7 separate regions of the Homo sapiens genome follow, and regions 1, 2, 4, 5, 6 and 7 are each linked to region 3. Evidence: fine-mapped expression QTL. A gene starts in region 3. Each other region holds a variant in brackets. All regions are shown on one strand. Distances are between the middles of the regions.

What was found. PIP is the estimated chance that this variant, and not a neighbour inherited with it, causes the effect.
Region 1: its variant is the best candidate, but not a certain one, in a credible set for the expression of WRN in caudate (GTEx, PIP 0.81).
Region 2: its variant is the best candidate, but not a certain one, in a credible set for the expression of WRN in memory regulatory T cells (Schmiedel 2018, PIP 0.86).
Region 4: its variant is the best candidate, but not a certain one, in a credible set for the expression of WRN in whole blood (TOPMed, PIP 0.60).
Region 5: its variant is the best candidate, but not a certain one, in a credible set for the expression of WRN in esophagus muscle (GTEx, PIP 0.60).
Region 6: its variant is the best candidate, but not a certain one, in a credible set for the expression of WRN in whole blood (INTERVAL, PIP 0.72).
Region 7: its variant is the best candidate, but not a certain one, in a credible set for the expression of WRN in fibroblasts (GTEx, PIP 0.52).

Annotation. Positions count from the first base shown.
Region 1 is chr8:30,977,818-30,981,972 of GRCh38, forward strand. No RefSeq gene overlaps it. Among named protein-coding and RNA genes, the nearest start is that of PURG, 53 kb to the right of the region's middle. The variant T/C (reference allele first, on the strand shown) is at 2,520.
Region 2 is chr8:31,113,616-31,117,615 of GRCh38, forward strand. It overlaps WRN (WRN RecQ like helicase), which reads left to right. Exons shown (of 35, transcript NM_000553.6): 20 at 2,739-2,913. Among named protein-coding and RNA genes, the nearest start is that of WRN, 82 kb to the left of the region's middle. The variant AT/A (reference allele first, on the strand shown) is at 2,260.
Region 3 is chr8:31,032,007-31,036,161 of GRCh38, forward strand. WRN (WRN RecQ like helicase) reads left to right here and starts at 1,804. Exons shown (of 35, transcript NM_000553.6): 1 at 1,804-1,967. It overlaps PURG (purine rich element binding protein G), which reads right to left and starts at 1,350. Exons shown (of 2, transcript NM_001323311.2): 1 at 1,072-1,350; 2 at 1-782. The coding sequence starts at 776. RefSeq lists silencers at 1,332-1,381, 1,542-1,801, 2,772-2,841 and enhancers at 1,557-2,078, 2,912-2,961.
Region 4 is chr8:31,073,111-31,077,110 of GRCh38, forward strand. WRN (WRN RecQ like helicase) reads left to right here. Exons shown (of 35, transcript NM_000553.6): 8 at 3,063-3,177. Among named protein-coding and RNA genes, the nearest start is that of WRN, 41 kb to the left of the region's middle. The variant G/C (reference allele first, on the strand shown) is at 1,999.
Region 5 is chr8:31,170,280-31,174,413 of GRCh38, forward strand. WRN (WRN RecQ like helicase) reads left to right here. Exons shown (of 35, transcript NM_000553.6): 35 at 2,716-4,134. The coding sequence ends at 2,823. Among named protein-coding and RNA genes, the nearest start is that of WRN, 140 kb to the left of the region's middle. RefSeq lists an enhancer at 1,770-2,969. The variant A/C (reference allele first, on the strand shown) is at 2,480.
Region 6 is chr8:31,132,265-31,136,264 of GRCh38, forward strand. WRN (WRN RecQ like helicase) reads left to right here. Exons shown (of 35, transcript NM_000553.6): 24 at 101-242. Among named protein-coding and RNA genes, the nearest start is that of WRN, 100 kb to the left of the region's middle. The variant A/G (reference allele first, on the strand shown) is at 2,088.
Region 7 is chr8:31,121,397-31,125,396 of GRCh38, forward strand. WRN (WRN RecQ like helicase) reads left to right here. Exons shown (of 35, transcript NM_000553.6): 22 at 3,126-3,227; 23 at 3,512-3,604. Among named protein-coding and RNA genes, the nearest start is that of WRN, 90 kb to the left of the region's middle. The variant T/C (reference allele first, on the strand shown) is at 1,927.

The DNA of each region.
Region 1 (4,155 bases), 54 kb before region 3:
GATTTGGGTGAGAACACAGATCCAAATCATATCAGATATTATGCAAATACAAGTACATGCAGTAATATTTTTTAAAATGCAAGTTCTAAAGCAAATACAAGTACAGGCAGTAATATTTTTTCTCTTTTTATGTAAATGGTACCATACTAAATATGGAGGGGAAAGTATTGAAGTTCTTCTGTGATCAGAATTGCAATTTGGAAGAAAATGCACTGTTTGGTACTAAATATAATCAGATAAAGGACTAAAGTGTGTGTATTTGTCATAGATAAGCTCCTTGAGGAAAAGGTTCTGGGTCTCTGAGGCATGTGTGTGAATTGTTCTAGCCACTTGGTCTTGTAGTGCCTCTTCCTTGGTTGATGTTCTCTGGTGGATAACATGTCTTGACTACTCCAGTCTTTCTGTCTACAAACCTCTTCCTCAGATTTTCTTTTTCCCAGTGTTCCAGTCCTTCTCCTTTCAAGGTCTTGACCAAACAACCAAACCATTAGCCACTGTCCATGAGTCTGCATAGTCTTAGCTTGGGCCATTTTTCTTTTGCACAAAGTGGATGACCCCAGGTTCACCAACAGAAGCTGTCTCCATTGGGAGGATCTCCCTTCTCTATTTTTCACTTGTACCCATATATTGAGCCGAATCATCCATGAACCAAGCCCTGTCTTTTTCCTTCTCTATGAACTGTGCACAAGGGCCCTGTTATGTAGTCACAGGTGTGAGCTGAGGGAAAGGTGCTGGTGCAATAGTGGTGAATGACATGGGGGCTGGGGCACCTGCTCGTATAGCTTATTTTTTCTTTTTGCCCTTTGCATGTGCTCCATCCTGAATGTGTAACTTCCATCTTAGAATGGAATGCTGCTGAATGCACCTGACCTTATAACTTTGTGGGTGTGACAGATCCAGTTTGTGATGGGTAGTTCTGGACACATGGTCAATTCCTGTCCCACAGCCAAGCATTTCCTCTCTACCAGAACCTAATAGCATACCAGCAGCTGCTTTTCAGATGGTTTATAATTACCTGCTACAAACGGCATGATTTGGCCCAGAACCCTAGGGATCTGCATTGTGATTCTTATGTTGGAATAAAATCCATATGGCATCTGCCTATAGCAGATTTCTCTAACAGCATGGGATTAGCTGGGTCAAATGGCAAAGTGATAGATCTGTACTGCAGGCTGGATCTGCTGCAGAACCCTTTACTACTCTGGGCCTTACTCAAAGCAGGAAGCTTCCTTGTTATTTGGTAAAAAATAGGCCAGAGCTGTATTTCTGAGTGTAGAATATGATACCTCCAGAATTTGAAGATCCCTTCTAGGTGTTTTGGTTCCCTGCTACTGGTGGAAAGTGTGACATACATTAATGTGTCCTTCAATTTTGTGGGGATATCCCATCATGCCTTAGACCATTGACCCTGAATAGCTTTGCTGATGTAGTAGGCCCTTGAAACTTTGCTGCGTTTTTTTTCTCTATTGTCTGGAATGTGTGTCTTACTGAAGCTTCCAACACACTTGCCACTTTTTGTTTATCTGGACCAACCAACATAGTGTCATCAATCCAATGGGCCAAGGTGATATTCTGCAGAATGGCCAGAGAATTCAGTTCCCTTTGGGCCATATTTTGACATAGCCCTGTGCCAAGACAGTAAACATATAGTCAGTCCCAAGTGAATATAAATTTTCGAATCTGTCTTTCTGAGACAGAAAAGAAGGTATTTGATAGTTCAGTGGCCACATACCATGTACCAGAAGCAGTGTTAATCTGCTCCAACAAAGATACCACATCTGACATAGCAGGTACAATTTGGGCCACTATACTAGAGTTTGAGGCAGTCCACTGTCATGTTCCAAGATCCAATTTTTTTGTAGGAGCTAGATTGAAGAAGTAAGTGGATGTTTGATGTGAACCACTAATCCCTGCATCCTTTAGGTCTCTAAGAATAGAATTAATCTCTGACATTCCTCCCTGGATATGATACTGTTTTTTAACTTACTATCATTCCAAGGTGGTAGGGGGACACTTCTAGTTCCCATTTTGTTAAATTTTACCCCAAACCAAGTAACAAATGTAGAGTATTCTGCCAACTATTAAGTATGTCTAGTCCAATAATTCATGCATACATACACACATATGTGTTTGCAAGACACAAAAATAAATCAATTGTATACAAAATGTACAAATATCAATTATATTTTATAGGATAGAAATGAACAATAAGAAAAATTATAAAAACAACACGAATGAGAGTAAAATAAAAATTGTGAATTTTAGGAACATACCTGGAAAAAGATGTGCAAGATGTATACATTTAAAACTACAGCTCATGAGATAAAAAGAAGAGCTAAATAAATGGAGAGGTATATAACACTCACGACTCAATATTGTTAAAATCTCAATTCTCCCCAAATTGATATATAGATTGAATGCAATCCCTTCAAAAATTCCATCAGGCTTTATTTTAGACACTGGGAAACTGACTCTCAAATTCATTTGGAAATGCAAAAGACCTAGAATAGCCAAAATGA[T/C]GTTATAAAGAATAAGAAAGTTGAGAGACTAATGCTTCCGATTTCAAGACATATTTATCAGGACAATGGAGTGTTGGCACCTAGATATATAAATATATCAATGGAATAGAATAGAAAGTCCAGAAATAGAGCCATGCATATATGGACAACAGATTTTCAACAAAGATGCAAGGGTAAATCAATGGAAATGAGCATTCTTTGCAACAAATTGTGTTAGAATTACTTGATATTCTTTTGCAACAAAATGAACTTTGACCTATATCCTAAACTATGTGCTAAAACTGTGTACACAATGTGTCATAGACCTAAACATGATATATACAATTATAAAATTTATGGAAGGAAACATTGGAGAAAATCTTTGTGACCTTGGGTTAGGCATAGAGATTTTAGCTATGGAATCAAAAGCACAGTTCACAAAAGAAACAATTGATAAGGTGAGCTTTGTCAAAATGAAATCAAATTCAAATGTTCTTTGAAAGCCATTGCTAAAAAAAAATGAAAAGGCAAGCCATAGAGTGGGAGAAAATGTTTGCAAATCCTATATAAGAACTTGTTTAAAGAACTCTTAAAATGCAAACAAGGCGATCAAAAAATGGGCAAACCAAAAATGGACAAAGATTTGACACTCGGCCAAAGAAGATATACGGATAGTAAATAAGCATATGAAAAGATTCACAACATCCCTAGTCATTAGGGAAACGTCAGTTAAAACCACAAGAGATGCCTCAACATCTTATCTGAATGGTGAAAATTTAAAAAGCCGACCATACCAAGTATTGGTGGGGATGTTGAAGGATTGCTGGTGGGAATGTAAAGTGGAACAAGCACTTTGGAAAATAGTTTGAGAGTTTCTTAAAAAGTTAAACATATACTTACCATGTGATCCAGTCATTCTATTCCTAGGTGTTTACCAAAGAGAAGTGAAAGCAAATGTACATAACAGTACTTGAATACAACTTTTTATAGGAGCTTTATTTTTAATAGCCAGAGACTGAATTAAGCCAAATGTTCATCAATAAATGAATAAATGAACACATTCAGCATCCATATAAATTCAGCATATCCATATCCATGGGATAATATAAATAAATGAACTATTGATACATACAACAATATGGCTGAATCTCAAAATAAATATGCTGAGTAAAAGAAACCAGATTAAAAAATAGTACATATTATATGAGTCAATTTAAAACTCTAGAAAATGCAAAGTTACCTATGTTGATATAAAGTAGGTCAGTGGTTGCCTGGTGATAGGCTCAGAATGGGTGTCAGAGAGGGAAGGAAAGTTTTTTTTTTTTTTTTTTTGAGACGGAGTCTCGCTCTTTTGCTGGGGTTGGAGTGCAGTGGCGTGATCTCGGCTTACTGCAACTTCCGCCTCCCAGGTTCAAGCGATTCTCCTGCCTCAGCCTCCCCAGTAGCTGGGATGGGGCTTCACCATGTTGGTTGGCCAGGATGGTCTCGATCTCTTGACCTCATGACCTGCCCGCCTCGGCCTCCCAAAGTGCTGGGATTACAGGCTTGAGCCACTGCGCCTGGCCAGGGAAGGAAACTTTTTTGGGTCATCAATATATTTTTTATTATTATTATTTTTCAAATTCTCCTAGATCCTGAGGATGTGCTTATTCTTTTG
Region 2 (4,000 bases), 82 kb after region 3:
ATAACACTCTCTATGGCACTTTCCCTTATAATAACACTCTCCTTTTTAAAGCAGTTTGCCTTTTTTGTGTGTAATATTGTTCTCCTGGTTTTCTGACGTCCTGGTCCTCTTATAATCCTATGCAAATGTTTCTTTCTGTTTTTCATGTTGACTCTGCTAATTGAGGTCTTTGTTACTTTTTAGCCGAGACTATTATAATTTCCCCAACAGATACCCCTCTCCCCAGTGCCCCTTGTTGCTTTCTATGCAGTTTACAAATTATTGTCTGCAAACACATCCTTAAGTCTGGAATACCTTTCTGGAACTCCTTACTAGGAAATAAAGACCAGACTCAGTGTAACATTCAACAGTATTGAAGATCTAGGTATTTAATATGAATTTTTTTTTTTAAGGAGATCAAGAAAGATTTTTGTACCCATTTTTAATCCTCCAAGAAGACTTAGGATAGCAGGAAACCATTGAGAGTCAGAATGCTTTCTACAGATCTTAGGTGAACAGAAACTTTCCTCTTCATGAGCAGTGAGGTAGAGGGTAATTAAGGCTTCAGAGCATTGCCCGTTATTTCCATCTTCTTCCCTTCCTTTAATTCTGCTAAATTCCTTTAATTTGTTTATCAGTATTCAAGTATTTTTATCCATTGAGCTAAGGTGTTTCTTAAACTAACCCTATTTTGTTAAAGTCTTAATTATAATATATTCATAGTACATTTAAGTGAGATAGATGAGTCTCTCATATAATTTAGTGGTTAGATTAGATTAGAATTTTCTCCCCTCAGAAAATTAAGAGGAAATAAAAGTCTGTAGCAAATCACTTGGCAAAATAATGGCTCCTTTTGTAATAGGAATTTTTACTCTTTTGATTTATCTGTTACATAAGTTCAAATTTTTACATATTTTCCACCTTTTTTAAAAAAGAGTGATATGTAGTCAATATCAATTTGAGCAACACTGTTGCATATAAATTGAAAAGGACTCCAATTTTCTAATTCCGTACCTCAGTTGTGATCACTGTTGGTATTTTGGCATTTATGTAGACTTCCTTTCTCTGACCCTACTACTGTGCAGATATATAGTTGCAGTTTTTTGTTGTTGTTAAGTTGATACAGAAATAGTTGCATACTATATCCATTATTTATGCAAATTTTTTTTCATTTAAAGTATCTGCTATCTTTCCATATATTGCATTTTCTTAAATTAGAGCCTTAATATATAGGATATTACAATATCTAGGTTTTGTTGAGTAGTTTTTTCTTCTTTGAAAACATGTTTTTAAAATAAGGTTTTTTTTTTTTTTTTTTTGACATGGAGTCTTGCTCTGTCGCCCAGGCTGTAATGCAGTGGCGGGATCTTGGCTCGTTGCAGCCTCTGCCTCCTGGGTTCCAGCGATTCTCCTGCCTCAGCCTCCTGGGTAGCTGGGATTACAGGTGCATGCCACCATGCCCTGCTAATTTTTGTATTTTTAGTAGAGACGGGGTTTCACCTTGTTGGCCAGGCTGGTCTCGAACTTCTGAGCTCAGGTAATCCGCCCGCCTTGGCATCCCAAAGTGCTGGGATTACAGGCGTGAGCCACTGTGCTGGCCTTAAAATAAGATTTTTATACACTAAAAGAAAACTTACATTTTTCACTCCATTAAGTAGTTCACTGTGAATTTTTGATATTGAAGCCCATTTGGTTGCTGTCAAAAATAGATTTGAACAGATTATTCAGTATGACTCTTGTAGTGAAATTATTGCCTTGTTTCCTCTGCTTAAGTTTTCAGTGGCTTTTGCCACAGTCCTTAAAGGTTTTATAATTTTTTTAATGTTTAATTTTTAAATGTTTGCTTAATATTTCTTAGTATGAGTGTAGATAATGATGAACATTTAGATGACTTTTTACTATTATAATGTTGCAGTGAATATTTGTTTACATTTATCTTTTGGCCAATAAGCAAATATTTTTGTAAATTAGAATCCTAAAATTGAAATTGGATCAAAAGTTATATGCACTTGAAATTGATTAACTTTTCCTAAATCTAAAATAGTATAGTCTTTTTTATATTGTCAGCATAAATGAATGCACTTATGTAAATGAATATTTTTAGGCGTTAAGTAAAATATTCTGTGGAAATTGAACATTTAAGTTGTTTATACTTCTATGGAAATCGTTTACGCTTTTAATAAAGAAGCACAAGTTTCTACAAAATACATTCTAACAGATGTTTTCTATAACATTCAGTCTCAAGATTACTAGTAAATACTTCTTTGAACTGTAAAAGCA[AT/A]CTTTCAATATTATAAGAAAGCTCTTGCTTTAGTAAACATTTAGAAACTCAGCTTTATTATCATAAGCAAGAATAAGAACAGTGTAACAAGTTTTATGCACACTCCTTTGTAAACCCTCACCAGACTAATTGTTAATCTGGTGCCTTGCATTCCCCAAAGTATTTGTATCTGTCGTTTATAAGTTTTTATCAAGGTTTCAGCTAAAACAAATAAATTTGTTTCTGGTTTTAGCTTTAATTTGAACTGAAACAGTCAAAACTGAGTTTTGGGGACTTCACACAATTCATTTGGATATTTGATTCTCCATAATGTTTTAAATTTTCATGCACTTAAATATATCATTATTTTTGATAGGCTTTCTTCCTTTAGTCTTTTCTTTAGAAGGTAGAAAGGAAGAATTAAATAAGATAAAACCAAACGGGTCTGAAGCATGTATAAAGTATATATGTTTGCTCTTTTGTTCTTCTTTTTCTTTAGTTCCCACTGGGAATTTGAAGGTCCAACAATCATCTACTGTCCTTCTAGAAAAATGACACAACAAGTTACAGGTGAACTTAGGAAACTGAATCTATCCTGTGGAACATACCATGCGGGCATGAGTTTTAGCACAAGGAAAGACATTCATCATAGGTTTGTAAGAGATGAAATTCAGGTATGAGGATCAATCATCATTGCTCTCCGTTGCTCATAGTGGAAGTGGATATTTCTCAAATGTTTATTTACCAGATCTTTATTGAATACTTTCTTTGTGTTGAACATAAAGCAGTCCCTCTGATAAATGTGGGAGAACAAACTTGCAGATTAGTATAAATAGCAATCTGTACCTAGTGCTTAGGTGCACAGAGGAGGGAGGAATAGCTCTGTCAAGGTAGTTGTGTAATGGGGGTGGTCCATCCAGGAAAATTCAATTAGAGTCCAAACATGTAAGTAGAAGTTTTTCAAGTATGCCAGGCCAGTAGGTGATGAGGGGAAAGGAATTGGTTATAGAATTCCAGGAAGAAGGACTAGCAGGTGCAAAGACACTTTGATATGAGAACACATACTGGGTTCAGGAAATGTGACTGGTATGGAATGGTTGGAGGGAAAGACAATGTGGGGTAGGAATGGCACAAAGTATGGACAAAGAGGCAGGGTGGAACCGTTAGAGACTTGAGAGAACAGTTGAATGGGTCGGTTGGCCAGGTTATAGATGGCTTTAAAACTTGCAAAGAAGCAGTCTGGGCTTGGTATCATATACCTGTTAGTTTTCACTGACTACTTTAGCCTTAGAATTTTTAGTTTAGATACAATTTTCTGTAATAGGTAAAACGGATTAAAGTAGAATAACTCTGGCTGAAGTTAATGTGAGGGAAAAGGAGGTACAAGAGTCTCGTCTCTAGACCTTGAAGACACTCCCTGTTGGGGTCTTATAATCCTTGGAGTGCCGCAGAATCATTTGAAAACCATCTTGATGTACTACTCTGTGTTTTTAAATAAGATAATAGGATTATAGAAACATTAGACTGGCAGCAATAAGTTGGATTGATTTGAAGAAGAGAAACTGAAGAAGGGAAAGGGTATCGATGCAGCTATTGTGAAATTCTACAGTTGAGATTCCTGACCTGATTGGACTGGCTCAGTGGGTGTCATAGAGGATTTATTTGGGAGGATTTAAGTTCAAGGCACATGAGTAGGTTTAAGTCAACAACTTGACACTGTCAACATGAAATCCACACTGTAACTATAAGTCCGAGGAAGAG
Region 3 (4,155 bases):
AGCGGGTCATCGTCTCCACCTCTTCGTTCTTCTATGTCTCCTTCGCCATAGTCTTCAATCAGCTGAACCAAGGCATCACGAAACTCAATCATTCCTTGTGCTGGGAGGACAATAGTCTGTTCTTGGCCCAAACTGTGGCCAAAATAACCTATCATGCCAGTCCCCCGCATCATGGTTTGTCTAATCCGTAGGAAGCGACCCCGCTGATTTTCCTTTAGGTCTAGGTAATATTTCCTATTGTCCCTCTCGATATAGTCTGTTTTCAGGACACTGTGAGGATGCTCTTCGGACCCCACCGAGACTGGTGGGGAGGGTGCCGAGTGCTTCTGCCTCCTTCTGGAGCCTTGCTCTTTGCTGTGGCCATGCTCTTGCCGGTGGCCTTTCAGGCCCAGGTGGGCATAGTGCTCGATGAAGTCCCCTAGACAGTCCTTCAGCTCCGCTGCCACAGACAGGGAGAGGGTCAGTTTACTCTTTCTGATGTTGTCCTGCCGGCCTCTCCCTATCCAGACTTCGGCTATCTTTAGGAAGCGGCCCCGGGAGCTTTGCTTCACGTCTAGGTAAAACCTCTTTTTCTGGATGTCCACTCGTTTGGAGGCCAGCTCCTGGATTTCGGCTGCGCCCCCGGCCTGATTAGGGGTGGCTGAGGCCGCGTAGTGGGGGTAGTGGGAGTGCTGGGCCTGGGGATAGAGTCTACTCTTGCTTAGGCCAGAGCCCCCTACATTCTTGCCTCCGCGGCCGCGGCCGCCGCCGCCTCCCCTTCGCCTGGCTCTTTCCATCTTCAGCTGCAAGTAACAAACAGACACACGGGATGGGGTGGGGGAGGGGTGTTGAGAACAATCGCAGACGCCCCTCGGCCTGACCGCCCCGCCGCCGCCCGCGACCCCCACGCCGGGCCCGGCTCCCCCGGCGCCGCAGCGCGGGGCTCCAGCCACTGCCGGCCGGTTGGCGGCCGCCGCTCCGGCTCTGCCCGCGCTCCCCGCATCCCTCCGCCGCCCCCGGGGCCGCTCCCGCACGCCGCCGCCGCCCGTCCCGCGCTCCGCGGCCCCAGGTCTCCAGCCGGCGGGCACTCACATCATCTCTGCCATCACCGCCGCCGCCGATGCCCTTCACGACCACCGCCGCCGCCACCGCCAGCTCTCGGCCCCTCTGCTGCAGCCGCCGCAGCCGCCGCCCCCCGCCTCCTCCCCCGCCGCCGCCGCTCGCACTGCCCCCCGCCGGAGCAGCCGGGCAGGGGCATCGCCCGCGGCGCCCACCGCAGCCGCCCCTCCTGCGGCCGCTGCGGGGGCCGCCGCCTGACTTCGGACACCGGCCCCGCACCCGCCAGGAGGGGAGGGAAGGGGAGGCGGGGAGAGCGACGGCGGGGGGCGGGCGGTGGACCCCGCCTCCCCCGGCACAGCCTGCTGAGGGGAAGAGGGGGTCTCCGCTCTTCCTCAGTGCACTCTCTGACTGAAGCCCGGCGCGTGGGGTGCAGCGGGAGTGCGAGGGGACTGGACAGGTGGGAAGATGGGAATGAGGACCGGGCGGCGGGAATGTTCTCACTTCTCCGGATTCCACCGGGATGCAGGACTCTAGCTGCCCAGCCGCACCTGCGAAGAGACTACACTTCCCGAGGTGCTCAGCGGCAGCGAGGGCCTCCACGCATGCGCACCGCGGCGCGCTGGGCGGGGCTGGATGGGCTGTGGTGGGAGGGTTGCAGCGCCGCGAGAAAGGCGAGCCGGGCCGGGGGCGGGGAAAGGGGTGGGGCAGGAACGGGGGCGGGGACGGCGCTGGAGGGGCGGGTCGGGTAGGTCTCCCGGAGCTGATGTGTACTGTGTGCGCCGGGGAGGCGCCGGCTTGTACTCGGCAGCGCGGGAATAAAGTTTGCTGATTTGGTGTCTAGCCTGGATGCCTGGGTTGCAGGCCCTGCTTGTGGTGGCGCTCCACAGTCATCCGGCTGAAGAAGACCTGTTGGACTGGATCTTCTCGGGGTAAAGTGTCTTCCTATTCCCGTTTTCCCAGCTCCGTGCCCCGGGGTATCTATAGTGCTAGGCTTCTGAGACACGTGGAGGCGCTTAGGCCCGCGGAGCAGGCCCCTGGGCTGTGTTTGGGAGATTCTGGAAAAACAGACTTTCTCCCTTTTCCTTTCCCCTCTGGAGCAGCTGGGAAAGGCGTCTCTCGGAGCTTCCGCCATTCAGAAAGTGTTTCCCCGCCCCTGACGGCCCCAGCTTGATGTTTACCTTGCGCGCTTAGTTAGGATTGCTCTTTCTAGTACGGCCTTTATTATGGCAGAAATTGAGCCACTACAGGTCTGCACAGCAAAGTCGAGGGAAATAACCTGCTGTCTATGATTTAGCAAGTGATGATGGATATTTTTGAGTTCAAATCACTCAGTCTTTAATGGATTTTCTTTTCTTTTTTTCCTAGTTGAATCTCAGTTGTTCTCAGGCTAGGTTTGATATGAAAAATACTACTCCCTATTGAAGAGGGTAATATAATTCTTAGGATGCTAATACAGGAGTCTGTAAGTCGGAGTACTTCAGGCTTTTTATGGTTCGGTACATTTCTTTTTAGGGGTGGGATATTGGGATAAGTAGGACAGTTCAGATCTTGATGTCATTGAATAGTGGTGTCTACCTAAAAGGAAGAGGCTGGGGCACAAAATTATAATTTAAAGTGTTTACTTCAGCCAAAATGAGGACAGCTGCCCAGGACTCATTTCCCAGTTGCCTTGGGGAGTGCTCCTTCAGCCTTGGTTACAAGCAGGTTTTTAAAGGCGAAGGGGAAGAGTGGGCTGAGACAAAGTTGGTCAGGAATTGTTATTGGTTTACAGAGATACCATTGCTTAGTGATTGGCTGTACACTGTAACTCATAGGGTATGAGTTATCGTGTCCAGCATATGGCATTTTATGGCTTCTTGGTTCCAGTCTAGAGCCCATATAGCAGGTGGGCTTTAAGAGATAATTATCCAGCTCAGACCGGGAGTGAGACGGGACTGTTTTTTCATTCTAATGCCTCTCTGGGCCTGATAATTTAAAGGGGCTTGCATTCTTCAGCTAAAATTTTATTTTCTTTTATTTTTTTTCCCCCACAGTGGTCTCCCTTTATTAATCCAACAAATGTTTATTAAGGACTGCTCTAGGCACTAGAGATACCAACAATGAACAAAACAGACAAACATCTCTCTCCTTTTGGAGCTTACATTTTAGTGGAAAGAGACAGGCAAAAAGTAAAATTATAGGATGACAGAAGGTGAAAATAGAGATTAAAAAGGAAAGGGGGATGAAGAGTGTGTGTGTGTGTTGTGGGTGGGGGGCTGTAGGGAGCTGCAGTTTTACAATAAGTGGTCAGGGACGTCCTCGCTGAGAAGGGAATTTTTGAGTCCAGAGCTCAAGGAAGTGAGAGAACTTACCTTGACGTTCTCTGGAGGAGAAGAAAGTACAAAGGCCCTGGGGGAACCTGCCTCTTTATGTTCAGAGAGCAACTTAAGAGGCCTAGTGAGCTGGAGCAGAGCGGAGAGGAGGTCAGAGGTCAGGCCAGAAAGGGAAAGGGGCCAGAATGTGTAGGACTTTATGGGCTATATTGAAAATTGGGGCTTTCATTCTGAGGGAGATGGGAAGCTGTTGGAGAGTTGTTAGGGAAACGTGATCTGAATTATGTTTCTAAAAAATTGGAGTAAGATATCATAAAATTTGCCATCTTAGTCTTTTTTGTATCTGGCCAATTCCACTCAGAATTCTTTTTTAAACAGCTTTATTGAGATATAATTAATATATCATATGATTCACTCATTTAAAGTGTGCAATACAATGGTTTTTAGTTTGTCTTCAGAGTTGTACAACCTTTATCACAATTACCTTTAGGACTTTTTCATTACCCAAAAGAGAATCTCCATAACCATTAGTACTCAATCCCACCCGCTTTCCTAGCAATCACTTACCTATTTTTTTGTCTCTATATAGCTCTCAAACCCTATGATATTCCTTCTATCTAACTGTATTTTTGTACTCATTAACAGCCTCTCTTCATTCCCACCACCCATCCATCCCAGCCTCTGGTAATCACCATTCTACTTACTACCTCAATGACATCAAATTTTTTAGCTCCCACATATAAGTGAGAACATGCGATATTTGTCTTTCCCTGCCTGGTTTATTTCACTTAACAGAATGTCTTCC
Region 4 (4,000 bases), 41 kb after region 3:
GGAGCAGAAGAATGATATAATTAAAATTTTATTTTAGAAATATTTTTCTGGTTGTCGTAAGAGGAAAAATATTTAGCCCCAGGGCATTTTGGCAGAGAGTTAGGAGGCTATTGTAACAGCCCAAGCAATAGACAATAATTGTTTGGATTAGGCGGGTAGCAATAGAGGTGATGAGAAGTCGTAGCTTCTGTAGGTATTTGGAAGATATATATTGTGAAGGATTTGCTGATGAATTCCCTGTAAGGGGTGAGATGTAAAGATTCATAGAACATTAAGATATTTTGGTCAGATCATCTGATCAATGGAAAGGTCAGTTATAGTGGACAGATTATGAGAAGAACAGGTTTGGGTGAGAAAACTTTAGATTTCAGTGTTGGATATCCTAAGTTTTAGATGATTATTGATATCCAAGAGATATCAATATTTGGGATCAATTTGGGAAATATGATCCCAAAGTTCAAGGTTGAGGTTGGAGATGTAATTCAGATCCGATGGTAGTTAAAGCAGTGAGACTGAATGAGATAAAATAGGGAGTGAATGAAATAAAGAGTAGGTGTGATATTGACCTCAAGGGCACACCAGCATTTAGAGGTTGGGAAGATGAGGAGAGAGCAGCAAAGAGGACTGGGAGGGCCACTAATGAAGGAGGGAAGTACAGGAGGTGTTTAGTTCTGAAGCCACCTGAAGAAAATGTTTGGAATAGGAAGAAGTTGTCAGTTGCTTTAAATCATTCGGGGAGGTTGAGTGAGATGAGAGTCTAGAACTAACAGTTAGGTTTGATGGTGTGGAGGCCATCAGTAACCTTTTCTTTCTTTTTTTTTTTTGAGACAGAGTCTTGCTCAGTCACCCAGGCTGGAGTGCAGTGGCGCGATCTCTGCTCACTGCAAGCTCCGCCTCCCAGGTTCACACTATTCTCCTGCCTCAGCCTCCGGAGTAGCTGGGACTACGGGTGCCCGCCACCATGCCCGGCTAATTTTTTTTTTTTTTTGTATTTTTAGTAGAGACGGGGTTTCACCATGTTAGCCAGGTTGGTCTCGATCTCCTGACCTCGTGATCCACCCGCCTCGGCCTCCCAAAGTGCTGGGATTACAGGTGTGAGCCACCGCGCCCGGCCCAAGAGTAACCTTTTCAAAAGCAGCTTTGCTCTACTGATTTGGGTAAAAGCTTAGTTGCAGTTGGTTTGGGAGGAAATGGGAGCAGAAAATTTGAGAGAGTGAGTGTAGACAACTCTTTCAAGGAATTTCGCTATAAATGGGAGTAGAGATCTGAAGACTGAATAATTAGCAAACTGAAAAGTGGGAAGACGTAATTCTCTTATTATTTCATTTTTCTTAGTGAAATAAGAGGTGAAGTTCTCTGAGTAATAGGAGGGTCAAACAGGTGTTAGAAGTTCACAAAGAAAGGAAGAGGTTTGAAATAGTCATTTTGAGAGTGGGAAATGTAGAAGAATTAACAGTCATTGCTGAGGGTGCGTTTGAAATCTGTCATGAGTTTAAAATAACTTGTGTCATCATCGATGTGTTTATTTTCAACTATATTCAACTGCTTGGGTGTAGGCATCAGGTAGGTAAAAAAAGTGGGTTTTATTATGAGTAGAGGTTTTGCCACGTAATTACCATGGAGGGAGGGAAGAGCAAAGGAGTTGAGAGTATAGATACAAAGGAATGATTACTGTAATGTGGGTAAGAGAGGAATGGAAGGCTCAGTGGGCAGTGGGAGTAGGGATGTTGATAGGTAAGGAAAAGGTGATAGGATCAATGCATTTGGTTCTGCAAGTGTCAAAGTATTGTTGGGGAAAGCATGCTGGAAGGAAAGATAGGGATGCTGGTGTTCTCAGGGTGGAAGGCTTACAGTTGTAGTCTGGAAGTGGTGATTTTATTGGCAATTATAAGGTCAACGGTATGACTATGGAATTGAGTGGCTAAGGTCTGTTGAAGAAAAGATTGTCGGAAATGCAGGGGTCAAGGAACTGGCCTGTGGATGTTGAACTCACTGGCA[G/C]TGATCAAGGAATAGTAGTGGAGTGAAAGTAGTTAATGAATCAGGCACTAAGATCTCCAAGGGATGAAAGGATGCAGTTTGGAGATGACAAGATAACTGTAGTAATCAGGAATAGCAGGTTTTGTAGCTCTGTCTCATAGGCCTCAGAGGAGATGGGCTTTTGAAGGACAAGAGAAATGATGATGAATAAATTCTAAGCAGGGGAAGTGTTTGGGAAAGCAGGGCAGGCTTTGTGCTGTTGATGGCAAATGATGTACCAGACAGGATGAAGTTGAGAATTTGGAAGTTGATCACTGATTAGAAAGGCTTACATTTTATTTTGGCCGGGGGTGGCAGCTCATGCCTGTAATCCCAGCACTTTGGGAGGCCAAGGTGGGCGGATCCCTTAGGCCAGAAGTTGGAGACCAGCCTGGCCACCATTGCGAAACACTGTCTCTACTAGAAATACAAAAAAAAAAAAAATTAGCTGGTCGTGGTGGCACATGCCTGTAGTCCCAGCTACTCCGGGGGCTAGGGAATGAGAATAGCTTGAAGCCGGGAGGTGGAGGTTGCAGTGAGCCGAGATTGCGCCACTGCATTCCAGCCTGGGTGACAGAGTGAGACTCTGTCTCAAAAAAAAAAAAAAGGAAGGGCTTACATTTTATTTTGGTGCTGACTGGGAATGAAGGCAATGAGGGATGACTGTTGGAGAAGGCTGTGCTTACTAAACAGTATTATTAAGTAGCAGCATACATGGTGTTATACTGACTTCTGATTTTGCAATAGTACAGACAGGTTCAGATTCTCATTTCCACCTTCTCCTTCTGCCTAGGTGAATAACTGCTGGGTTATAGTACAGATGACTGCAGATCATTTGGAATTTACTTTAAATGTAAACAGTAAAAATTTGAAAGAGAGGGAAAGTGATTGAGGCAATTTGGGGATTGAATAAGAAGGTCTTTTTGTTGGAATTCATTTAAGGAAAGAAAATGAAAATTTGATCCCTAATATTATTTAATGAAGTGGCTAAATGAATATCTCTGCTTTGTGGTTTGAAAATTAATATTGATTTTTTTTCCCCCTAGAGGAAGAAATCCTACTTAGCGACATGAACAAACAGTTGACTTCAATCTCTGAGGAAGTGATGGATCTGGCTAAGCATCTTCCTCATGCTTTCAGTAAATTGGAAAACCCACGGAGGTTAAATATTACCTTTTTTTTTTTTAACTTAAATCAATTCTGTTTATTTTTTTATCACATTTTCCTATATGTGAAGAATACTATTCATTAAGGCTGACTCATAGAAATTTGCTTGAATACACACACACAGACTGATGCATAAATTTGAGAAATATCTTTCCAGTTGTTGAATAGTGAATCCAAAGGTTTAAGCCTTTTCTGTCTGCTTTGTAGGATGTTTTATGAAACAAAGGAATAGAAATTGTATTCATATTATACATTTTGAAATTATATCTATATTATATTTTTTGTCAAAGCAAAATAAATTATACATTAAGGAAAATATTTAAGATTCAAAGTTGTCATTTTCTTTCTGTTAATGAGTATCTTTGATTTAATAACATTTATAGTTTGGTCACTTGAAATCTATAGTGACCAAAAGCAATGTCATATTTAGTAGCCTCATTTCTGTTACTATCTGATTATTACTTAAGAATTCTACTTAATTAATAGATTATTAGAACAAAAGGCATTCCAATTTTAGAGATTCTTTTATGGTTAAAGCACTAGGTAACTTAAAAAATTTGGATCAAATGTTATACAGATTAATAGACCTTGGAATACAGGGGCTATGTCTTTTTGGAATCAGACCTTGTCCTGGCCTTAATTGCAGGATGACTTCCTTATTAAATCTCTAAAAGCAGGAATGCTCTGGAACAATGAACAATTAGAATGTGGTAATGTAATTTTGGGCCAAAAAATACTTTGTAGAAATGTGATTCTCTTACTTGGAATAGAAAGAATTCTGACTCGAAAAAGTGCAGTTAATGTATGCTTTTCTGGG
Region 5 (4,134 bases), 140 kb after region 3:
TCTTCCCAGTACCCTCTCCTCCTATGTCATTTTTTTCTTCTTATTTTTCTTGACTGTATAAGAGAGAATGTATGACATTTCCTGCTTGACCGCTGAGTTTGATTATAAATTAAAATACACAATATTTTATACAAATTGTTTTGTAGAAGATTTATTTACAGATGCTCATTCACAGGTAAAATTGACTTATGAAAATAGTTTTCATGACAAATGTATCAGGCTCGGTAACTAAATATATGGATTGATCTTGTTTATAAATGAAATTAAATGTGAATGTAACTTACATATTTCTGTATTTGCTTACATCCGTATGTACACATATAATCAGCAAATGAGTTGATGTTTCCTATTCGTAACTTAATGGTAATAGCTTGGTAACAGAGTTGGGAGTATTAAAAAGATGTAAAGAGCCCCTTAAAATTTTGTTGCTGGGAATTTTAGTGTTCTACTGATGAAGGAAATAGACACTGGAAGGCGTTGTTTCTATTAGGTAACTTAGATATCATACTGAAGACTTCAAATACTTATTGTTGACACTCAAAAGACACACTTAGTGTAAGTAAGCATTTCCCCGCTTTTCCCAATGAAATAAGATCATTATTATAATTCCATTATAAATGCTGATGATCATATTTATAGAAATATAGAAGATAAGACTTGAAATGATATTCGCTACCAATTAATGAGTTTGAAGAAGAAATCAGGATGTGTTTTGCTATTTTACATTTATTCTTATTTAACTCCAAAGAATTCAGTGATGTTATGTACTATTATTTCCATTTCTCTGTGAAGACGTTGAAGCTTAAGTAACACGCATAATAAGGTCATACATTTAGCAAGTGGCTCAATTAAAGTTCAAACCTGGTTCTGCCTGGTTTCAAAGTCTGTGCTACTCCATGGTATTAGGCTACAACATGACTTAGGGTTTCTTCCTCTGCTCTATTGCTGTTCAGATGTACTCCTCTTTTGGCAGAGTGGGAGAAAATTTTTGCAATCTATGCATCTGACAAAGGCCCAATATCCAGAATCTACAAGGAACCTAAACAAATTTACAAGAAAAAAAAAAAAACATTAAAAAGTGGGCAAAGGACTTGATCAGACACATCTCAAAAGAAGACATTTATGTAGCCAACAAACATATGAAGAAAAGCTCAACATCACTGATCATTAGAAAGATGCAAAATGCCTTTTCTGTATGCCACCTTATATCCCCAGTATTTATTATTTCTAAGTCATAGTATCTTACAGTGTATATAAGTCTCATCCGTTCTTTTGATTTTCTCTTCCCTGCTTGCAATTGGGTACCTAGGAACAAAGTTGCAATCTTAGCCAGTTTTTTCTTTAGCCTTTGCTGATGTGTGAAAAGCCCTTTTTTCTACCCTGGATTTCTGTACTTAAGCTGGAACAGCTAAGTTTTTACCTTTTTTAAATATAAAGTTTCAGAGTCTTCTGCCAAGGATCTTTTGCTGTTTTCCTACTGTTAAATATTTCAAAGCCTTTTTTAAACATAGGGAATATAATCAAACATAGCAAGCAGCTGATGAACAATATCTAGATAGTCTTCATTATTGAAATGGAATAAATGGTATTTTTGTATTTTAGGCTAACAGACACCTTGTACCTTAGATAAGGCCAACCTTCTCATAAAATCCCTCAGTTACTTTTATTAATAATAACCAAATTAACTCTGGATTCCAGGGTGTACTCATGATGGAATGATTTCTCTGTCATGTTATCCTGAGGATCTAGTACTCTGAGATAACATAAGTGTATGACACTTTAGGCTTATGAAACACTTAGCTACTTAAATTATTTAATTTTTTTTCATGTGCAGATGGTATTGTACCCAAACACTACCTTTGTGTGTGTGTGTGTGTGTGCCTGTGTGTGTGTTTTTGAGACAGGGTCTTACTCTGCTCAGGCTGGAGTGCAGTGGCGTGATTATAGCTCACTACAGCCTTGACCTCCTGGGCTCCAGTGATCCTGCCAAAGTGTTGGGATTGCAGGCGTGAGCCACCTCACCCAGCCTTAAATTATTTTTTTTTCAAGGATGTTTAACCTGAGGGTTAGAGGCTCTTTGGCACGTGAGCTGCTGAAATGTGTGTGAAAGTGTTGTGCACGTGTATGTTTCTCTTTTTTTCTGGGAAGTGGATCTGTAGTGATTCTTAGATGAGTCTATGAGACAAGAAACTTTTATTTTTTTCATTTATTTAGCGAATGTTTGTTAAGCGTACTATGCCTTGGCCACTCTACAGGGTGCTGATTGGACCAGTCTGTCTACCTACCGTTGTAGATGTTAGAAGCTATATTCTTTTCACATGCCTAATATAACTCTTTGTGTATGTATACATGCCCAGGCATGTTCCTTCCTCAGAACATTAAATTCACCATTTTGGTCAACTCAAAGCAAGTACACCATGGGACACAGATCTGAAATAATGTCCAGATTTTTACTTACTGAATGAGGTGTGTTGAGTGT[A/C]TAAGACTACATGATGAGATGGCAAGTAATTGCCTGAAGAAATGATGTAGTGATTTTGTGTGTCTTATATTTATTTACTTTTTGATCCAGAAATAAATTATATAGATACCACTATTTTGTTTGGATGGGGGAGAAAGGATGGGTGTGTATTCAGGAACTTATGTTACTTTTTTGCAACTAATACCCCTTCTCAGTAGTACAAAGATTTGATTTCTTTTTCTTTCTATTTCCTACAGACTTCATCTGCAGAGAGAAAGAGACGATTACCTGTGTGGTTTGCCAAAGGAAGTGATACCAGCAAGAAATTAATGGACAAAACGAAAAGGGGAGGTCTTTTTAGTTAAGCTGGCAATTACCAGAACAATTATGTTTCTTGCTGTATTATAAGAGGATAGCTATATTTTATTTCTGAAGAGTAAGGAGTAGTATTTTGGCTTAAAAATCATTCTAATTACAAAGTTCACTGTTTATTGAAGAACTGGCATCTTAAATCAGCCTTCCGCAATTCATGTAGTTTCTGGGTCTTCTGGGAGCCTACGTGAGTACATCACCTAACAGAATATTAAATTAGACTTCCTGTAAGATTGCTTTAAGAAACTGTTACTGTCCTGTTTTCTAATCTCTTTATTAAAACAGTGTATTTGGAAAATGTTATGTGCTCTGATTTGATATAGATAACAGATTAGTAGTTACATGGTAATTATGTGATATAAAATATTCATATATTATCAAAATTCTGTTTTGTAAATGTAAGAAAGCATAGTTATTTTACAAATTGTTTTTACTGTCTTTTGAAGAAGTTCTTAAATACGTTGTTAAATGGTATTAGTTGACCAGGGCAGTGAAAATGAAACCGCATTTTGGGTGCCATTAAATAGGGAAAAAACATGTAAAAAATGTAAAATGGAGACCAATTGCACTAGGCAAGTGTATATTTTGTATTTTATATACAATTTCTATTATTTTTCAAGTAATAAAACAATGTTTTTCATACTGAATATTATATATATATTTTTTAGCTTTCATTTACTTAATTATTTTAAGTACCTTTATTTTTCCAGGATGTCAGAATTTGATTCTAATCTCTCTTATGTAGCACATGTGACTTAATTTAAAACCTATACTGTGACACAGAGTTGGGTAAACGATGATTATTTAACTTTAAGCAGTTCACCATCCATTTCAAAGCCTTTGATTGGCTTTTTTGTAAATAAAAATAACTTGTTAAGAAACAAATATATCTGTCATAGAAGAACTAGAAAATCCAGGGAAGTGAGAAAAATGAAAATAAAAATCATTCATAGTTTTACTAGTAGCTAATCACAGTCAACCTCTTTTGTGTATCCCACCAGACTTTTTTATATTCATTTGTTTTTAGTTAAAATATAAAAGTCTCGTATATTCCCATTTTTCTGCATTGCATTACCAGAAGGTAGTGGCGCCTATTAAATATGTGATATGTTGTTGTCCAGCCATGGCTTCTGCATTTGCATGCTTTTGTGTGTGCATCTGCAATACCCTGTGAATATCCTGTGTGATGGAGTGGCAAGTACGCACAGACACGTCTGCTGCATGCCTAGGTACGAGGCTGTCTCCAGGAGAAGCACTTGTTTGATTATTTGAGTTGCCAATTGAATTTGCTGCTTTTTTTCATG
Region 6 (4,000 bases), 100 kb after region 3:
GAGATATTTTTTACTTGGCTAATTGTTATGCTAAATCTTTTGATTTCTAAAGATACATGCCTTTGCTAAGCTTTCTTCAAATGTTATTATTTTTATTTAGATTGGATCATTGCTATTCCATGGATGACTCAGAGGATACATCCTGGGACTTTGGTCCACAAGCATTTAAGCTTTTGTCTGCTGTGGACATCTTAGGCGAAAAATTTGGAATTGGGCTTCCAATTTTATTTCTCCGAGGATCTGTAAGTATATATCTGTGAATTCCCTTCATAGATCTTCTTTTACTTCTATTACACTTTTCTTCAGAGGTTTGCAGTATTATGATTGTAGCTTTGACTTCAGATGGGTGACTAGGAACTCATAGAGTCTTACTAAGTTCCAGTTAAACACTACATTCATTACTTTGGATAAAACCCGTGTGTATGGCATCTTCTGCTGTTTTCATGTTCAAGCCGATGTTCAGCTCTGCAGCTCAGTCTGGAAGCATTGTGTTAATTTATCACATTGCATTTGGGTGAATCCCTAGACTAGTCTTGCTTAGGATAATTAGGAAAAGTTAACTTTCATTGTATCAAGGGACAGGTAGAACAAAATTGTCCTTTTGTCCAGGAAACCATTAAATTCTTCAAGGAAAACTTTAGTTATAGGGATTATTTTTTAAATGTCTAATTTCAGTAACAATATTTGGGACATATTTATTTTTCCTTCTGTTTCCTATCAGAAGTATTTAAAGTTATAAGAAAATTGTGGTTTTTGCCTTTACTAATGAATAAATAATCAATTAAATTCAGTTACTTTTTTTTGGAGTGATTGATGTTCCAGTATTCTTCTAAACAACCACGGGTACAAATGTGAATAAGATAGGACCGTTGCAGTCCAAGAGCTTGTTCTGTAGTCCTTTCCTTTATATGATTTTTTCCCCTGATTTAGAAGTCTATAAAGCAAAGCTAAGTATTACACACTGATAATGGCTGAATAAATCAAGAGCAAGAGATAGGATACTTTGCAAATATGCATATTTATTAAAAATGTACTTTAAAATAGAGATTAAAATTCTCGTATTGAATGTAGAATAGGTAAGCATTTATTTGTGAAATACTCGAATGCTTCATGTAAATACTTTCTGAGTTTGTATTTTTAGAAAGGAACATTTTGGAGGCTGAGGCAGGAGAATGGCGTGAACGTGGGAGGCGGAGCTTGCAGTGAGCTGAGATTGTGCCACTGCACTCCAGCCTGCGCGACAGAGCAAGATTCTGTCTCAATAAAAAAAAAAAAAGAAACATATTTATTAAATTAGTTGTGAAATATTTTTAATGAAATATATTGAAAACTTCTGTTGATTTTTCATGTACTGATGTTTTTAGATTCTAAATGGAGTTTAAAATTTTGTTTGTAAATCACAAGTTGGATTAGAAATTTAATAGTAGAAGTGTTGCCTAAGGACTATTTTAGGTGCTGTGAGTGAAACTGTATTTTTTATAACAAGAATTTTAGTTGTAAGGGACAGCTTAAATATAATTGAGATCTGTGAAAATGTATTCTGTCTCTATCACCTTCAGAACCTGTGTATCTCAGTTGAATGTATAATTTATAAAAATTATTCTTGTTTTAATTTGGTGTAATCCAGCCATATCCAGTATCAACAAATAAGTCTAAGTAGGCTCCTTGACAAACTTGAACTGGCCACAAGAGAGATCAGATTTCACCTATTAAAAAACCAAATCAGACCACTTACACTGACAGTCTCTTCTGGGAGTCCTCAAATTAAGAAGTCTATCCTTTGTGAAATATTACACTACCCTTGCTAGATAAAACTTTTCTAAAAGTACCACTTAATGAAAATCTGTAGACACTAAATGCAATGAAAATAAGGCATTGTTTTTTTTTCTCCCCATTTCAGTGATCTTGGTATCCTGGGATATTGTTTTTAAAATTATCGTTATAATTCCTTTGAGAATTTAGTGAAATGTTCCCTTTAACCAACTTAGGAAAAATTAATATCTTTGTACATGATTTTGAGCTGTAAAATAAACATTTTAAACTGGGAATAATTGGAGTTTAGTTAAAGAGATAATGTATATAAATAT[A/G]TAACATAGTAGCAGCATATAATTCTGTCTTACACAAGATTTTTCTGAATAGTATAAACAGTTATGTAGCCTATCTAGGAGTTTGTGAATAGAGTTTAAAATTTTGTTTTGAAGCTGCAAATTTGATTAGAAATTAAACAGTGAAGTTATTACTTAAGGAACTTCGTTTTAGCTGTCTGAACAACTTACTGTATAAAAATCTTTAAACATTCTGTATAAATATGTGATAAGATATGCAATGACCTTAATTTTATAGATTAGAAAATAAAAACACACTCATTAATTTACATAACTGACAGATTAAGTGAAACTTCTCTTCTGATCACGTTAGCAGAATGCCAAATCTTGTCGTGGCACTAGAATTAGACGGTAGTTTTGATAATACATGATTTGACTATAGACATTTGTTGAAACTATTGGTAGTTTTAATCACTCTTGTAATTTTCAAACTATCTAACGGGAGAGGATTATCCATCCTGTTTTCTAGACAAACTGTTTCATCTGAATGAAATATATTCCTAGAGATAATTATCACTACTTCATCTTTTGGTTTTATTTTGCACATAGAATTATAGTTCACAATGACTTTCTGAAGCTCTAAAGTTGCAGCTGTGAGCTTCTTTGGCCTGTAGGGACTGGGAAAAAGCACCCCCGTCCTCCCCCAAGCCCCCCCACCAAAAAAAGTTAAAGTGTTTTTAACAATAGCTGTGGGCTTTTTGTAGTTTCAGAACTTAGGAGTTGCCCAGGCTGGAATGCAGTGGTGTGATCATAGCTTGATGCAGCCTTGAACTCCTGGGTTCAAGCAATCCTCCCACCTCAGCCTCCAGAGTAGCTGGGACCACAGGTGCCACCCCACCCAGCTATTTTTTTTATTTTTTAATTTTTTTGTAGGTATGGGGTCTCCCCATGTTGCCCTGCCTGTCTCAAACTCCAGGGCTCTCAGGTGATACCCACCACCCTTGGCCTCCCAAAGCACCGAGAGTCACTGTGCCAGGCTGAGTTTAAAATTTCTTGAGTTGGAGTTTATGGCTATTTTTTCCACTAGTTATTAAACATGTATTTTTGTATAAGGCACTGTATTACATTTTGTGGGGGGATTCAAAGCTAAATTAGATGAGACGCATCATCTATTATGGAAGATGTTACTTAAGAAGAAATGAGTGTAATGTAGCAGAGAATTAGATAAGGGACGTATGAATACATATAAATGCTGTTGAAGTTCTGAAGAGAGAGAGTGTTTAGAGAAATTAGAGGAGTCTTTGTGAAGGTATCACTAGAACTTCCTATTTTTGTGGAATATATAGTAGATTTTGGTGTGATACTGTGGATTTGGACATTCACTCAGAGAAGGAATGAGGGAAGAATGGTGGAGAAGAATGGCATTCACAGTACAAAAAGCAACTGTGACTTTTAAAGAAGTTAATATGGAGAAGTGGCAAGTCTTTTCTTCTCTCTTCTCTTCTCTTCTCTCTTCTTTTTCTTTTTTCTTTTTTTCTCTGTCAGATACCGTTGTAAAGACTTTGCTTTTACCGGAAACTGATACGTTGGGTCATGTACCCTGGCCAGTCAGTTCTCTTTATTCTAACACTTAGCCGATCAGTTAGATTTCCACATTCCATGATATGTCAGTTTTGGTGACCCTTATTTTTCCACCTGGTTTATAAAGGGAAAGAATGTGATATGTCACCCAGGCTCTGGAGTACAGTGGCATGATCATAGGTCACAGCAGCCTCAAAGTTTCCAGTTCAAGCGATCCTACTTCCTTGGCTTCCTGAGTATGTGGCACTACAGGTGCATGCCACCATGCCCAGCTAACTTTTTTGTAGAGACAGGGTCTCCCTATGTTTCCCAGGCTGGTCTTGAACCCCTGACCTCAAGTGATCCGCCCACCTTGGCTTCCCAAGATATTGGCA
Region 7 (4,000 bases), 89 kb after region 3:
GTGGGAGATATAGTAGTAAAGAAAAGCAAAGTACCTGCTTCCATAGAATTCAGTATAATGGGAATGGTAATTCTTTAGAGAATCACATAACTATGGATACATAGGCTTCATTTTACTGTTCTCCTTTTGTGTTTGAAAATGTCAACAATCAAAATTTTGTAAAAAAGGAATCATGCAACATATTTAAAATTATAACTGTGTTAAGTGTAATGAAGGGAAATTGCACTGAGTAGTAAGAATATATAATGGTGTGTGGTATTTCCCAAGTTAAAAAGGTCAGATAAGGCTTCCTTGTGGAAGTGATAGTTCAAATCTGAAAGAAGAATAGGAATTAATTAGGTAAAAATGTTTGATGCAAATTTTAAGATTTTCCTTCTGAGTAGTCAGTAGCTTTTCCTTCTTAACATAGAAGATGACAAAACCATCCTTTTTTTGTACATAACAATTCTTGTTTTCCTTTAGACAGTTGTATCTGTCAAGCTTCTTATGATCTAATTTAAATAATTGGGATAGAACACAGCTGTACATGTTACTATTAAATATGGAATATATCAAACATAAGTTGATTCCTACCAGTTCTGATTTTATTTGTGTATTTTGTTAAAGGTACTGAGGACATTAATATCCAGTTTTATATTGTGCATTTGAAGGTTCATCAATAAATACAATTCTTGTTTCTCTGGGTCTTAAAAGATATTTTAAATGGTTATCTCATTAAGATTTAACAGGAAATAACAGTGATTCAAATCAAATAGTGGTGCCAGAAACCCATACTTGAATTTTGGGTATAGACAGGTTACCCTTTGCATCAATCCTGAGGAAACTAAAACTATAGGATTAATCAGGATAAAAAAGAATTGAGCAAGGATTCAGGAGGGATCTGTATCATCCTGGTGACAACCCTCTTCTAGAAAAAACTAGAAAGTCTAAGAATAAATGAAGTTGCTGGTTCTCACCTGGAAAGGTCAGTTACTCACAAAATTTTTAGAGTCTATCTTATGCCATAATTCTATCACTGAGAGAAGAAACTTGTCCAGTCATCATGTAATCTTCATGTAAATTTATGTTTTTAATTGCAGAATTCATACCACAGGCAAAGTCCCAATGTCTGCATTTGCTGTTACCTTAAATAGTCAAACCCCAAAGTTATTGTAATCTTTTTTTAACAGAGAATAATTTGCAGAGTAATCTCGGTCCGGTAGATCTTTCAGTGGATCCAAATGATTGCCATGAATGGTTTAGAATTTTTTTAATTTTCAAGTTGTTTTTATTCTGTGGAATACTGGACTTATTTTTGTAGTCCCAAAAGAAAAATAAATATTTATTTATTTGCCGTTAAGAGTTGTAGTTTTGTTTTCTCAAATTTGTCCTGACACTGACGAGATTAGTTAAATGTAGGTCATCTGAACCAAATACAAGGAAGGAAGGACCCAGTTCTGAAGAGTGTGGGCATTTCTTTTCTTGTTTTTTTTTTTTTTTTTTTTTTTTTCTATAGGAGGGGAACGAGGTGAACTAAACAAACAAAATAAAGCAAAAAAGAACTGATTTTTATCCCTTGAGGTAGAAAGAATGAGATTACAGTGGACCCCCTTGTCTGCATTTTCACTTTCTATGTTTTAGTTACTCACAACCACGTCCAAAATGTTAAATAGAAAATTCCAGAAATAAACAATTTATAAATTTTAAATCAGTGGTGGCTTTGAGTACTGTAATGAAATTTTGTGCCATCCCACTCAGTCTGCCTCGACTTCCCTTAGAATCATCCCTTTGTCCGGTGCATTCACGTTGTATTTACTCCCTGTCTGTTAGTCACTTGTTGCAGTATCACAGTGCTTGTGTTCAAGTAACGCTTATTTTACTTAAGAATGACCCCAAAGCACAAGAGTACTGTGCCTAATTTATAAATTAAACTTTTTCATAGGTATA[T/C]ACATATAGGAAAAAACATAATACATACAGGATTTGGTTGGTACTATTCTGCGGCTTCAGGCATCCACTGGACGTCTTGGAATGTATCCCTTGTGGATAAGGAGGAACTGTATATGGTTAACCTAGGAGCTAGAGTCAACAGTTGGAAGAGACTTTGGGGATAATTACATGGAAGGGCATGGTGGGTGGTCGTTTCAGATGACAAGAATGTTTTTGAATAACGGATCATTTGTGTCTTCAGACTTTCCAGAACTCCTTGAGAATTATGCAGAGGTATTTAATCAGTCAGAAGGTTGAATAGTCAAATTATTAGTGAGTGAAGTCTATTTTGATGAGGATTTTACTAATGCTGTCCCTTAGATATTATAAGTAAATCGTTGTTTTCTTTTGAAATATCTGAAACCTAGTTAACATGGACTTTCATTTGTTCTTGTAAAGATATGCAAAGCTATTTGGGAGATTGTCATCATCTGATATTTGATATTCATGGGCTTTCTTCACAGAAGACTAGAAATTAACAGAGTCATGATGAATTATGGCTGCATTGACTTTAAAAAACAAACACCTCCTTAATGTTATTTAACAATTTTGAATAAATTTGATATGGCAAACAAATCAGTTATAATCGATTGAGAAAGGAACTTAATTCTAATACTTGACTGGTGTCCCATAATAACCCATAATACTAAGAGACAGTTTTGGAGGGCGAGAAGTCCTGAAGAGCTGATAGAGATAAAGGTTCAAATTTGAGCTTCTTTCAGTGTTCCTTACGTCAATGCTTTTAGTTTCTCATACAAAATAAAATAAAGAATAACCTTTTTACTGGGAAAAGGTAAAAATTAATAAATTGTAGAAGCATTGTTTGAAGCCAAAAAGTGTGTGACATGTAAATTGAAATGAAAAACCTTAGAGTTTTTGATACTTTTTCAAAGCAGCTAAAGAATTGATACTTGGACACAGGAAGAATTTTTTTTCAAAAGCAATTTTTATAAAATCAGAAAAATGTTTACCTCTTGTTGGGGGCATTGACTGGAAAGGAATACAACAGAACTTTCTGAGATGCTAGAAATGTTTTTTTATCTTGATGGGGTGTGGGTTTTGTAGATAATGAAAAATAAACAGTAAAAAATAAGTAAAAAAAAAAGTAAGAAAGTTGCCAATACAGTTTTACATATTCCTGTGATGTTTTTAATCGACAGGCACCTTCTTACTGAGATACGTAATGAGAAGTTTCGATTATACAAATTAAAGATGATGGCAAAGATGGAAAAATATCTTCATTCTAGCAGATGTAGGAGACAGTATGTATTATTTATTTTATGCCAATAGTATGGATTTATGGATGATGCTCTTTTAAGACAACAATTTGGCTAAATAATTATCAGTATTTTGAAAAAATATTTTGTTGCTGTTACATGTGTGCTGAATTTTTAAGGCTAACTTCTTTGTGTCTGAGTAAACTGAAGTCAAATAATGAAGTCCCAAGTGAATCAATTAATGGTGATTTTACCTCATTATTTTCAGGAATGAACTTAACATATACGTTTCTGTTCTTTTATTTAATTTAAAATTTTGTCTTGGGTAGAATCATCTTGTCTCATTTTGAGGACAAACAAGTACAAAAAGCCTCCTTGGGAATTATGGGAACTGAAAAATGCTGTGATAATTGCAGGTCCAGGTAAAGATTTCTTATTATAGATGGACATTCTAAAAGTCTTTCTTTCTCTTCCTTTTCATGTTTAACTGAATTTTTGTTGAATGATAAGTATTTCAGTTTTTTAAACAAAACAATGAATGTGTTTAGATATGAGAAAGCAAACAATATTAAAGTATTTTGCTTAAAAAATAGATAAAGCAATAAAATGGTAGCCCTAAATCTAAACATATCAATAGTTATGTTAAATGTAAATGATCTAAAATATTATTTAAAGGCGTAAATTGTAAGAATTGGTTTAAAAACATGACCCTGTTCTGTACGTTGTCCACAAGAAATCCACTGTAATTATATAGATAGGTTTAAAAAAGAATGAAACATTACATTCCATGAAAACATTAATCAAAAGGAAGTTGGAGT